Linked DNA regions of Homo sapiens. The protein of the gene in region 4 interacts with the protein of the main gene of each other region in a biochemical or structural test. Each region holds a gene or a part of one and is shown on either strand. Other genes may lie near its edges.

Region 1 (3,500 bases), on a different chromosome or scaffold from region 4:
AATAGGTTAGTTTCATTCTTACTAGTAGTTTCCTTGTATAAATTTCAGAATTCATAGAAAAATATCTGTAATACTAAGCTAAGTAGCCTTTAGTTGCCAGAGAATACCAAACATACTTATTTAAAATAACTTCCTATTTTAATGCACTTTTACTTAGAAAAAAATTTTTAACAGCTAATTTTAGGATATTTAAGTTGCTTTTGTGGTTATATCTAAAAGTGGCAAAGGCTATTATAGGAATCAAATTTAAAATTTTAGAAAGACATTTTAAATGTGAACATTCTCAGTTTCTATTATTTTTTGAGAAGCTATGTCAATGAAATTATGAGGAAATTGTGAGTTAATAAATTACTTTGCAGTGAATAATGTTATTGGACCTATGGAATATAGAGGAGTGTAAGTATTTTATAACAAATTGGTGAAAATGATAACATGTTTTTTCTTGATGGAATTTGATAAAGCAGGGTACTGAAAAATCACAAACTGTTATCTTATTGAATAGTGATGAATGTAAGTTGACAAGTTACTACAGAGAAGGCAATCATCAGTTGTGAGGCAGGTCCTCCTTTATTTACCTTACACACTCAAAAACAGCCGTATTTGAGCTTAGGCATCACAGGTAAGAAAAGGATGGTTGGATGAGGAGTTTTTGATAAGAAAATTTAGGTGGCAACATAGTCGAATGCAGCTTCTTCTTATATTAAAACTAAATTGTAAGGAGAATGAGATGTGTGGTATAGGTAAGCCCTAGGTTATCCATGACAGTACAGATGGCTATGGCAGGTTTTTTTGCAGAAGAGACACAGGAAGAATTCATGTACAGCAGGCCTTCCTTATCTGCGGGTGTCACATCTGTGAATTCAACTGTAGATCAAAATAGTTTAGAAAAAAATACATAAAAAATTTTTAAAATACATTGTAACAATTATTTACATAACATTTACGTTGTATTAGATATTATAAGTAATCTAGAGATGATTTAAAGTGTGCAGGAGGAGTGTAAAGGTTATACGAAAATACTGTGCCAGTTTATATGAGGAATTAGAGCATCCTGGATTTTGATTTTGGTGTGGGGTTTCCTGGAACCATTCCCCCATGAAGATTGGAGGATGACTGTGTTCTGGACTCCAGCTGACCCATGGTCATGTGTCATGGTCTATTTGGTCTCTGTCATGAATAGAAAAAGGCATGTAACTTGTCTTGGGAAAGGTTATAGTATAATGCAAGAAATACATACCTTGTGTTTGACTCTGGTTTAGTTTTTGGGTGTAGAGACACTAAATTCTAGGCAACTTAGTGAAACATCCGTTGTCTGAAACAACTTTGCTGTCATTGTATAAGAATTGTGTTATTTTGAGTACTGTGCTTGAAACTGAAACATTAAAAATGAAACTGGTCATTCAAGATTATTTACATTGGCCTTAGTATAAGCAGTTAAAGGATGTTTCGTCCTTAAATTAATACACAGTAACTTTTCATCAGATTCCTAGATTTGAGTTTAACGTTTTACTAATAATGCTTTAAAGAGAATTTTAAAATTACACAAATTAGCACATATGACGACTTAAACATCAAAACTTGAAAATTTGTTATTTTAAGCAGTTAAATGTTGTCATTTTGTTGTATTTTAAATTATTTTTTATGGAGCATCCCTACTTTGGTTTATGGAAACCTCAATTCTGAATAGAGTCTCTTTTTTTTAGCAAGATGTAATTGGTTTATGATGAATAAAATTTGGAAGCGTAGTATTGCATTTTCTTTTTTTGTTTGTTTTTCTTATAGTATTGCATTTTCTTTAAATGACAAATTTGTGTTGGTATTTGTATTGATAATGTAAACTGAATTATTATCTAAATGAATTCTTAACAGTTAAGTAAATTCTGAATATGACATATTCTTTGAAGCTTGTTTATTCACAATTACTTGAGCAAATAGACCATCAAGATTTTTACACTTAATAAGGTTCTATATTAATTTTATTATAATTATAAAGAAATAATAGGCATCTAAGGGTCCTTCTGAGAATAGTTACCCAGGTTAGAGGACTTGACTTGTACTGACTTATATGGGTTCTATTAAGTTTTTAATCAAATCTACGTGTCGATGGGGAGAAAAACTAAAGTTCTAATAAGGAAGCTGTAACATAATAAAAATATCAGTAAACTTGGAATCAGGAGACCTGGGTTTGATTACTATTTCTCCTATTTTCCAAATGTGTGCCCTCAGACAAACTGCTGCCTTTGAACTTCAGTTTTCTTTATGTATGAAATAGGGAGAGTAGTTAAGCTTATGTGCTTATGAAGATAAATAAATTTTGGGAACACTCAGCACAAAGTAAGTACTCTGTTTTTCTGTGGAGAAGCTATTACAGTTAAAAAATCAGAAAATGCATTCTTTCTTTAAAGATTATAGATATAATTTAACCCACACTGTTAGTAACAGATTTATAATTGTAAGCTTGGATGTTTTTAGAATTTTAGGGGCTGGGATTTTAATATAGGCCTTACACAGTAATTATCACATAGTATTTCTATAAATTTATATTTATATATTGTATATTATATATTATAAATAATAAAATATAATTAATGTATATACAATATATTGTATTTCTATAATTTTGTTTATATGCTACAGTAGTGTACAAATAAGAACTATATTCCAATAAACTGGCCTTTTAGAACTCAAAAACATAATAGAGAGCAGAAGTGTAACTAGCCTTTTATATCTGACAAAACTGTGAGAGAATAGATTTGAGAAGATCTGAAAAACTGACTTTTTTAGAACCAATTAGGTGTTCAGAACATAAGGATGAAGTGAAAGCCTAGTTAGACAAATGATACTGGTGCCAAACAGCAGGGTCTTATTTTCATAATAATTATATACTAGAGGAAAGAAGGGCACTTCTAGGTCTTCACAGCTAAATCAAATAATTGGAATGAATATATTGATCTAACATCACTTTGAAAAGGTTGTTAAAAACATGCTCAAATTTTTTTCCTATTTAGATTTACAAAGATTTTGTTCAACACGAAGGGTCAATATGTAATATAGAATGTAATTAAAGTAACAGCCAACTGTTAGGTACAGTACTAACTGCTTCATATGGTTTAATTTAATAATTTATGACTACTTTCCAAGGTGGTGACTGTTGTGATACCAGTCATACAGATGAGGACACTGAGGCTTAGAAAGAGTAAATGTTTTTCCCACCCTCAGCCTTAGCAACTTTAAACCCAGGCTGTGTGACTTGAGATTTCGTGGGGTTTTTTGTTTATTTCGCTTTGTTTTTGAGACAAAGTCTTGCCCTGTCACTCAGGCTGGTGTGCAGTGGCATGATCTTGGCTCACTGCAACCTCTGTCTCCAGGGTTCAGGCAATTCTCCTGCTTCAGCCTCCTGAGTATCTGGGACTACAGGCACGTGCCACCACGTCCGGCTAATTTTTGTATTTTTGGTAGAGACGGGGTTTCACCATGCTGGCAGGGCTGGTCTTGAACTC
Region 2 (3,500 bases), on a different chromosome or scaffold from region 4:
ATACAATTTGAGGTTCTGACATATGTATATATCCATGACATCATAACCACAATCTACATAATGAACATACTCATTACCCTGAGGTTTCCTCATGCCCTTTGTAAACTTCCTCCTTATCCCACCATGCCACATCTTAGCATAAATAGAATTTTAGTTCAGGCAGGACCACAGCAAAAAAATTACCACAGGATAGAAAGTAGGGCTCTCGGCCAGGTGCAGTGGCTCACGCCTGTAATCTCAGCACTTTGGAAGGCCGAGGTGGGTGGATCACAAGGTCAAGAGATCAAGGCCATCCTGGCCAACATGGTGAAACCCCGTCTCTACTAAAAATACAAAAATTAGCTGGGCGTGGTGGTGTGTGCCTGTAGTCCCACCTACTCGCGAGGCTGAGGCAGGAGAATCACTTGAACTCAGAAGGCAGAGGTTGCAGTGAGCTGAGATCACGCCACTACACTCCAGCCTGGCAAAAGAGCGAGACTCTGTCTCAAAAAAAAAAAACAACAACAACAAAAAAAAAGTAGAGCTTTCTAAAAGAACATGGAAACTACTAACTAATATCCTGACTGGTGGCTCCCAACAAAGGCTTCTGTGGCCACACATTTGTCTGTGGTGTTTGAAAGTCTAGTGCCCTTTTGTGTCACTCCCCCCACACCCCTTTTTTTTTGAGACAGAATTTCGCGCTCATTGCCCAGGCTGGAGTGCAATGGTGCGATCTCAGCTCACCGCAACCTCCGCCTCCCAGGTTCAAGCAATTCTCCTGCCTCAGCCTCCTGAGCAGCTGGGATTACAGGCATGCGCCACTGCGCCCGGCTAATTTTGTATTTTTAGTAGAGACGGGGTTTCTCCATATTTATTGGTCAGGCTGATCTCAAACTCCCGACCTCAGGTGATCCACCCGCCTCGGCCTCCCAAAGTGCTGGGATTACAGGCGTAAGCCACCACGCCTAGCCATCGCTCCCCTTTTTGAACACACTTCCAAATGTTCCATACAGAGCACTATACCTGTTTGGAAACCAACAAAGAAACTGAAAGTCAGAACCCATATGCAGTGCAGCTGTAGGCCTGAGGTGCACACAGGGACTCTTACCACTGCCTCGCTCCCTGGAACAGACAGACTTGACGTTGTATGATGGCTGCCGTGGATCCAAGAAGGAGACATGAGCTTGGGAGCCCACTGCATAAACTGACCATTCACTACCATAAGCCAGACACACATTCTCACGGCAATATGGCAGTTTGGTGGAGAGGAGCTGAAAATAGAGGAGAGATATAACCATGGCATCAGCAGAGAGGGTAAGGCAGGGATATTGTTTCTGGACTCCCACCTTGATGGGCTTCCCTCATATAAAAGCCACATAAAATCAAGCCCTGATTACAGAAATAACACTCTGTTCCACCCCTAGGTATACAGGAGAAAGAGGAGGTGAATGTTAATAAACGGTAAGACCTAGATACTGAAGGAGATAGGTTGGGGAAAAGGTAAATCTGGAATAAATAATCAGAAGTAGCTGGAAAGGCCAAGGCCTTTCTTGGTAGGCTGTTTCAACTATTCAGGTTGTTTCTGGGAATCGTTCCAGGGCACTAAAGCCATAGTCCCACTCTGTTCTGTCTGCCAGGAAGGGCCACCTCAGTGCTTTTCAGATAAAGAGGCTGATCTCTGGCTACCCCCAGCTCACCTTCCCACCTGAATGGGAATTGTACGCTATAGAAAGCACGCCCATGGGACTAGCTTAATCCCAGATAACCCACATCAGCCTTAACCCTGGGTCTTCGTCAGTTAGCAAATCCTCAGTGGGTGCATACAACACATAAGACAGCATACAAGGTCAGTGGAGCTCAAAGGCTATTGTGACATGAAGGAATCACTAATTCCTGGAACCCTGCTTCCTCTTGCAAAGTCCTCAAGGATAAGAAGAAGAGAAAAAGCTGGGCGTGGTGGCTAACGTCTGTAATCCCAGCACTTTGGGAGGCTAAGGCAGGCAGATCACCTGAGGTCAGGAGTTTGAGACCAGGCTGGCCAACCTGGTGAGATGCCATCTCTACTAAAAATACCAAAAATTAGCTAGGGGTAGTGGTGCATGCCTGTAATCCCAGCTACTCAGGAGGCTGAGGAAGGAGAATCACTTGAACCTGGGAGGCGGAGGTTGCAGTGAGCTGAGATCGTGCCACTGCATTCTAGCCTGGGCAACAAAGTGAGACTCTGTCTCAAAAAAAATAAAAAAAAGACAAATGATTCACAGGTAGGTTTAACTCTATGTAAAAGTTGCTTGTTGAATCTCCCTTATCCAAAAGGCTTGTGACTACAAATGTTTTGAATTTCGGATTTCTCCAGCTTTTTTTTTTTTTTTTTGAGACGGAGTCTCGCACTGTCGCCCAGGCTGGAGTACAGTGGCGCGATCTCAGCTCACTGCAAGCTCCACCTCCTGGGTTCACACCATTCTCCTGCCTCAGCTTCCCGGGTAGCTGGGACTACAAGCGCCCACCACCACGCCCGGCTAATTTTTTGTATTTTTAGTAGAGACGGGGTTTCACCATGTTAGCCAGGATGGTCTCAATCTCCTGACCTTGCGATCCGCCCACCTTGGCCTCCCAAAGTGCTGGGATTATAGGCGTGAGCCACCGCACCCGGCCCCGATTTTTAAATATCTACATATATGTAAGGAGCTATCTTGGGGATGGCACCCAAGTCTAACCACAAAATTCATTTATGTTTCATATACATCTTATACACATAGAGTGAAGGTAATTTTATGCAATATTTTAAATAATTTTCTGCATTAAACAATGTTTGGTACACTGACCTGTCAGAAAGCAAAGGTGTCCCATGTGAAATTTTCCATTTGTGGCATTGTGTTGGTGCTCAAAAAGTTTTGGACTTTGGAGGCTTTTTTTTTTGAGAGAGAGTCTTGCTCTGTTGCCAGGCTGGAGTGCAGTGGCATGATCTCGGCTCACTGCAACCTCTGCCTCCTGGGTTCAAGCGATTCTCCTGCCTCAGCCTCCCAAGTATCTGGGACTACAGACGCCCACCACCACGCCCAGCTAATTTTTGTATTTTTAGTAGAGACGGGGTTTCGCCATGTTGGCCAGCATGGTCTCAATCTCTTGACCTCATGATCCACCTGCCTCGGCCTCCCAAAGTGCTGGGATTATAGGCGTGAACCACCGCGCCAGGCCTTTTTTTTTTTTTTTTTTTTTTTTTTGAGATAGGGTCTCGCTCTGTCACCCAGGCTGGAGTGCAGTGGCAAAATTACGGCTCACTGCAGCCTTGACCTCCTCAGCTCAAGTGGTCCTCCTGCCTCAGCACTGCTACCCTCCAGTAGCTGGGACTACAGGCATATGCCACAATGTATGGCTAATTTTTAAATTTTGTTGCAGAGATAGGGTCTTACTGTGTTGCCCAGGCTAGTTTTGAACTCCTGGGCTCAAGCAATCCTCCTGCTTCAACCTCCCAAAGTGTTGGGATTACAGGCCTAAGGTATTGTGCCCAACTGGATTTTGGA
Region 3 (2,767 bases), on a different chromosome or scaffold from region 4:
TCCTAATGATAAGAATCCTCCTTTGTCTTGTTGGTAGAAATTATTAGGGTTGAATTACATTTTTTTCTTTCTGATTATGACATCAGATCTCAAGGATCATAAAGTTTAATTCACCTTGGTTCTACAGATTCGCTGATGTCAGAAGGCTGATCTGTGGTTTGAGAAAGACGGAAAAGAAACAGTTTCCAACCTCCAAACAAAACCCACAGAAAAGCCTGGTGGTGGAAGGTTCTAGGTAGAGAAAATCTAGACAATGACTGGACACAGTGGGCAAATGCCTACCTTTTGGAAATACAAACTCCACAGGGAACAATTTCCACAGAGAAGTTACATTAACTGAAGGTTGTCTTAGGACAAGGCTGAATAAAGTAAATATTTCAACACCATATGTTCAGCTTTGGCAGGAGATGTAGGTGGGAAGGGAATCTCAATTTTGGGGAATGCCCATATCACACCCCAGCTGGCTATGTAATCATGAAATAAGGAGAAACACATAAATATTTGGTTAAAACACCTTTAATGATAGAGGGAAAGACACTAATATCTCCCGTCTGTTCTTGACATTTTACTAGGTTAGGAAGCTCTGGAGCCTACAGCTTGAGGAGAAGCCATCGTTCAAGTCAGTCAATAGCAAAACCCTCACTCTCTCCTCCTCAGAACTCCTGTTCCAAATGATCCTATGTTAAGAGTAAATACTACAACTCATTACAAGACGGAGAGGCAGGGAGGACGCCACCTGGAGCTGGTCTCCCAAAGTCTGGGACTCTTAAGAACCAGACAATGACAAAGACACAAGCCCCAGCCTACGGATAGGCAAAATGGGTAGGGGTCTTGAAAGAGGAAGATAAGGAAAATACAAGGGGCCAGGGAATAAAGGAGGGAGTTATCTAAAACTAGAAGCATACTAGTGCTAGGAAATCCCCCATGATCCCTGGTACACCTCTGCACACTATGTCACTATTAGCCCAAAAGAATATTAACGAGAATGTCCAGACATTCACAAGAATTTGAGGCCTTTTCCCTTACATCATGTCCCTTTCTTAGTCACATAGGTACCAGCAAGCCCTATGTTCTAGCAACATTCCTTAACTCTCTCATCATTAGTTCATCAACCATGCTGACCAAAAATGCTCCTTAAAGATACGAACTTCACATTTCCCAAATATCTCCTGGGAGACCTCTTGGCAAGAAATCAGCTTGTTTCCCAACTTTGAGAGGTCATCATGAATGAGAAGCTGGAGAGGTCTTGGCACACTGACCAGCCAAAACCTTTACCTTAATGTGACCATCAGGGGATTTACTGGGAAAATTTTCCTATGCCCTTCCTTCATTTCTCCCTACTTCCTAGGGTTGGGTCACCAATTACTGGAGCATCTTCAGTACCGGCACCTTCTGGAGCAGGGGGAGGAAGAAGGAATGTACAGTTTGCTACTTCTTGTCTATGATGGGCTTCTCAGGCACTGCCTTGGGTGCAGGAGGCTGAAATAGGAGGGGGGCTGTCTTCTCCTTGGCTTCCCTGGATCCCATTGTTGGAGGCACCTTCCCAGCCACAGTTCCTAGGCCAAACAGCACTGGTGGGGCCAGGCTTGGAGTGGTAGTGGAGGTGGAGCTGGAATTCCAGGGCTTCATGGGCAGGCCATTTGACAGGAATGCCACATACTGGTTCTAGAAAGATAGGGGACCCATACCCACCAGCTGAGCAGAAAGGTCACCCCAGAGGAGTGGCACTGGGCCCTCCAGAGACAGCTGCCAGCCCTTTTTGGCTAGGCTGCAATGCCAAATGTAGGTGCTCAGGTGCACCTACCAAAGGGAAAGGGAGAGGAGAGAGGAGGGGGAAGAAGGGTCACACCAGGGAAGCTGGAGAGGGTTCCCCTTGAGAAAGCTGCAGAGAATCTATGTTCCTCAGGTACAAAGAATGAGGAGGGAAGAAAAATTCCTTAGGGGGCCATCCCCTTGTAAGCACAGTAATTTCCAAGCTCAGGGACTACAGAAAAGCCACTAGGGACATAACATGTTAAGAACTTAGAGAAAAAGACAAAATCAGGGCTCATAACTCTGGGAGGTCCTTTTGTGAAGCTGTTTCTGCTCTGTGGGACAAAGAGCAGCAGGTACAGAAAAACAGGCTCATGGGATCGTGGGGTCATCTTTTCGGGGAAAGGGGGAGAGCCCTGTGGAGGTGATGGAAGGCGAACAGCCAGGGACTAGAGAAAGAGCAGCAATATTCTGAGGGCCATGGGGGGCAAAGGGCTGTACCTGGTGGTGTGCCAGGAGCATATGCTTCTTGAGGGTAGCCCGCTCAAGAAAGCCCTGCCTGCAGAAAACACAAGTGAAGAGCGGCCCCTCCTTGGGGTGGGTCTTCTGATGCTCCTCCAGAGCTGCCTGGGAGGGAAAGGCCTGGCCACACACTTCGCAGGCCTTTCTGCTGCTGCTCTCTCCTGGCTCCTTTCTCATTGCCTCCTGCAGGCTCAGCTCCTCTACCAAGGTCACGCTGGTGGCTTCCCCTTCTGGGGTGAGTGCTGATGCCGGACTTGAGCTTCTCTCCGGTTTGCCCCCCTCTTCCTTGCCTCCTAAAACACCACTGCTTCCCTGCTCCATTGGCTGAGGCTGATCCAGGCTGTCAGGTGGTGGTGGTGGTGGCAAAGAAGACTGTTGAGTAGTTTTCTCATTACTGTCCATCTCCTTCCCAGCTGTGGCTGCTGCCGCCACTGTCCCCACCTCCTCCTCTGCCCCAGATGCCTCTTCTGAATCACCTCTCACTGATATTGCC
Region 4 (3,500 bases):
ATGCATCAACATGGGAAATTAAAACTTTTCTCTCTCTAAATGGTCATGACGCTTTATGTTTGCAAGATTTGTGTCTGAAAATCTAATGTACTTTCTTTTATTTATAACACGCTCAATAGGAAAACACAGAAGTACCTACCTTTACTGGAAATTTCAACTGGTTGTACACTTCTGAAACAAGGAGATTGTGGCTAAGTGTCTTTCTCATCTTCATAATTCGAACAATTGCAGCATCAATTTGATACTGTCTGTCTTGAAATACTCTTTCTGTAGTGCTTGCTTGTTCTTCAACCTAACAAAAAAGTTTTAAACCTAGGAATTATACCAGAAGCAAAACCTGACTATTTACATAAATTGTGCATTTTAGGGACATGACATTGTTATTGCTTTAAAGGTACTGAATTATCTAAATGGGGTCTTATAAATATAGATGCTGACAGAGAAAAATCCTACAAACATAACTCCTTTCTGTTCTGATTATATTGCCCTATACCAATGAAGTAATGCTAATATTAGTTAATAGAAAAACATCATCTTTGAATTGCTTTTCTAGAAGTAGAGATAGCTGATGTGGAATTTACCATTTTGTTTTTTTACTCTGTCTTTGATATATCTTCTAAATGTGTGTATCAGTTTCAATGGATTGTTAACCAGATTTCTCTATGACAATAGCTTGTCTATAAGGTGACTCTGTCTGATCTCTGACTCAAGGCATGGTATTAACTGGCTAAGCAAACTAGTTAAGAGTCAACCTCTTTGAAAATTAATTTTTATTTTGTAATATATAAATCAGACATGCATGCCATTAGTGCTTACAATCCTTCAAGACTTACAGAAATGTAGGTATTTAGGAGGCGGTTTACCAATCTTGATGCTAAAGTAAAAATGTTCATCTTTAGTAATTAAACCAAAAAAACAGTTTGGCCTTTTTGCAGCAGTTTCTTCCTGGTACAGCATAAATGTTTTAAAAGTAAGGACATGGTAATCCTTTAAGAAAATATCCTGTCTTTGATGTGTATGTGAAAATGACAGGAACTTGTTTGGAGATACTGGTCGCTGTCCTACATTAAAATTTTTTCAGTCGGGCTCAGTGGCTCACACCTATAATTCCAGCACTTTGGGAGGCCGAGATGGGCGGATCATGAGGTCAGGAGTTCAAGACCTGCCTGGTCAATATGGTGAAAACCCATCTCTACTTAAAATACAAAAATTAGCCGGGCATGGTCGCTCACGCATGTAGTCCCAGCTACTCAGGAGGCTGAGGCAGGATAATCGCTTGAACCTGGAAGGCGGAGGCTGCAGTGAGCCAAGATCGTGCCACTGACTCCAGCCTGGGTGACAGAGTGAGACTCCACCTCAAAAAAAAAATTTTTTTTTTTTCAAATATTGCATTAAACCTTATTGGAACTGAAACCATCAGTTTCAGGATGCTGCAGTTGGAAGTCTCTTACAAATTCAAATGGCAAAAACAAACAAAATATTCACCTTCCCTGTTTTTGTTTTTTTTTTCTTTTTTTTAAACAGAGTCTCACTGTCACCCAGGCTGCAGTGCAGTGGCGCGATCTCAGCTCACTGCAACCTCCACATCCCGGGTTCAGGTGATTCTCATGCCTCAGCCTCCCAAGTAGCTGGGACTACAAGCACGCACCACCACGCCCAGCTGATTTTTGTATTTTTAGTAGAGACAGGGTATCGCCATGTTGGCCAAGCTGGTTTTGAACTCCTGACCTCAGGTGATCTGCCCGCCTCGGCCTCCCAAGGTACTGGGATTACAGGTGTGAACCACCGTACCTGGCCCACCTTCACTGTTAATCAAATAAATAGTGAATAAATCAATTCAGATTTTTCACCAAGCAAGTTGGCAAAAGAAAATATAATCTTTAGTGCTGGGGGACATAGTAAGACAGGCTCTCATATGCTGCTGGACAGAGTATAAACTGGTCCAGCCTTTCCGGAACACAATATGACATTATGTACTAAGACTCCTAAAATGTTCATACCCTTTAACCCAAAAAAATCTACTTCCACAAATTTATCATATATCAGAGATTAAAATTTAGTTTCAAAGAGGTTTCTTGCAATCTTATTTATAATACTAATAAGTCATGAATTTAATTGCCCCAAAATGAACAGTGGTTGAACAAACTATAAGAGCCATGTAAAAATATTACACTGCCATCTGCCATTTTTCGAAGCTATTTAATGGCATGGAAAAATTCTAAAGATTGAATACTAAATAAACAAAGTAAGATATGAAACTATGTTGAGTATCATCTCAATCCTGTACAACCACTCTCCCAAACACCCAAAATCAAATCAGGAAACATATTTAGCTGGACATAGACACAAAAAATATTAATGGTATTGGCAGTATTACAGGTATAAAAATCTTTATATATTTTGATTATTAACATGTATAATTCCAGTGTGTTAGGACTAAGAGAAAGTGAAAGAAATACCGTTTCTTTCATCTGGATTTGATTGATCTTTATCCTGAAAAGTTTATGTTTGAAATCATCATTACAAATGAACTTGTCACCATCTTCAATGTCTTTGCCCTTTGGATTTTTCGCCAGAACTCTAGCTTTGCCACAGGCTAATGACTGCAGTGTTCTCCTTAACTCTCCATCCTCTGAAGAAGAAACAGAGGTTTAGTTATTTGTTACCAGCATGAACAACTACGACATTCTACCTCAATCTAGCTTCCACTCCATCCCCCTATTAAAACTATTTCATTTTTTCCCAAAGGTCACCAACAACTTTTCTTTGTTCTAGCCAATGGCTTTTTTCCTAGTCCTCTTCTTTTTTAAAAAAAATAGAGGCGGGGTTTCACCATGTTGCCCAGGCTGGTCTCAAACTCCTGAGCTCAAGTGATCCACCCGCCTTGGCCTCCCAAAGTGCTGGGATTACAGATGTGAGCCACCACGCCCGGCCCCTAGTCCTCTTTTAAAGACGTCAATTATCATACCATGTGGGCAACTACCAAATATTCCAAAATGACATTTCACTTCTCTCCAGTTGCACGTTTAAAGGGCAATTCCGCCTGGCTGTTTTACTATCAACTGTAGTTACGTCCAAAATTTGATTCATCATCTCCATATAACTGTGTCCTCTTTCCAATTGTCAGTGGTGATACCACTAACCTTCTCAGTTGGGAAACCCTAAAATCATCTTTTAACTTTTCCTTCTCCTTCATCCTCAACATAATAGCTAGCCGCTGCTTCCGCAGAGATGAGTTTTCTCCATTTTCATGGTCTCATTCTAGTCTAAGTCCCTTCTACTTTATGCCTGAATCATCCCAATAGCATCTAAACTGGAATCCCTTGATCCTTCCAGTTGCCCTGTAGATTGATTTCAGTAAGTGGTCCAAATAATTACTTCCACCATGCCACATAGTTGAGACACTACAGTGTAGGTTTCATTTGCTAGACTTATCAGGTTCTCCACAATCAGGCCCTACTCATCTTACCTAATTTTTTAACTCACTATTCTATGTTACA

What was found.
Region 1: the proteins of CUL4B (region 4) and PHIP form a complex in vitro, tested with the Homo sapiens proteins (one study listed by BioGRID).
Region 2: the proteins of CUL4B (region 4) and DCAF12 form a complex in vitro, tested with the Homo sapiens proteins (one study listed by BioGRID).
Region 3: the proteins of CUL4B (region 4) and SALL2 form a complex in vitro, tested with the Homo sapiens proteins (one study listed by BioGRID).

The regions. Positions count from the first base shown.
Region 1 is NC_000006.12:79,068,255-79,071,754, reverse strand, and holds part of PHIP (PH-interacting protein), read left to right. Parts: exon of another isoform or gene 1-864; intron 865-2,580; exon of another isoform or gene 2,581-3,500.
Region 2 is NC_000009.12:34,092,199-34,095,698, forward strand, and holds part of DCAF12 (DDB1- and CUL4-associated factor 12), read right to left. Parts: intron 1,251-3,500; coding exon 1,088-1,250; intron 1-1,087. UniProt on the Homo sapiens protein: Substrate-recognition component of a DCX (DDB1-CUL4-X-box) E3 ubiquitin-protein ligase complex of the DesCEND (destruction via C-end degrons) pathway, which recognizes a C-degron located at the extreme C terminus of target proteins, leading to their ubiquitination and degradation.
Region 3 is NC_000014.9:21,520,580-21,523,346, forward strand, and holds the end of SALL2 (sal-like protein 2), read right to left. Parts: coding exon 2,125-2,767; 3' UTR 1,666-2,124; coding exon of another isoform or gene 1,429-1,665; 3' UTR 501-1,428; downstream 1-500. UniProt on the Homo sapiens protein: Probable transcription factor that plays a role in eye development before, during, and after optic fissure closure.
Region 4 is NC_000023.11:120,529,963-120,533,462, forward strand, and holds part of CUL4B (cullin-4B), read right to left. Parts: intron 2,633-3,500; coding exon 2,460-2,632; intron 293-2,459; coding exon 140-292; intron 1-139.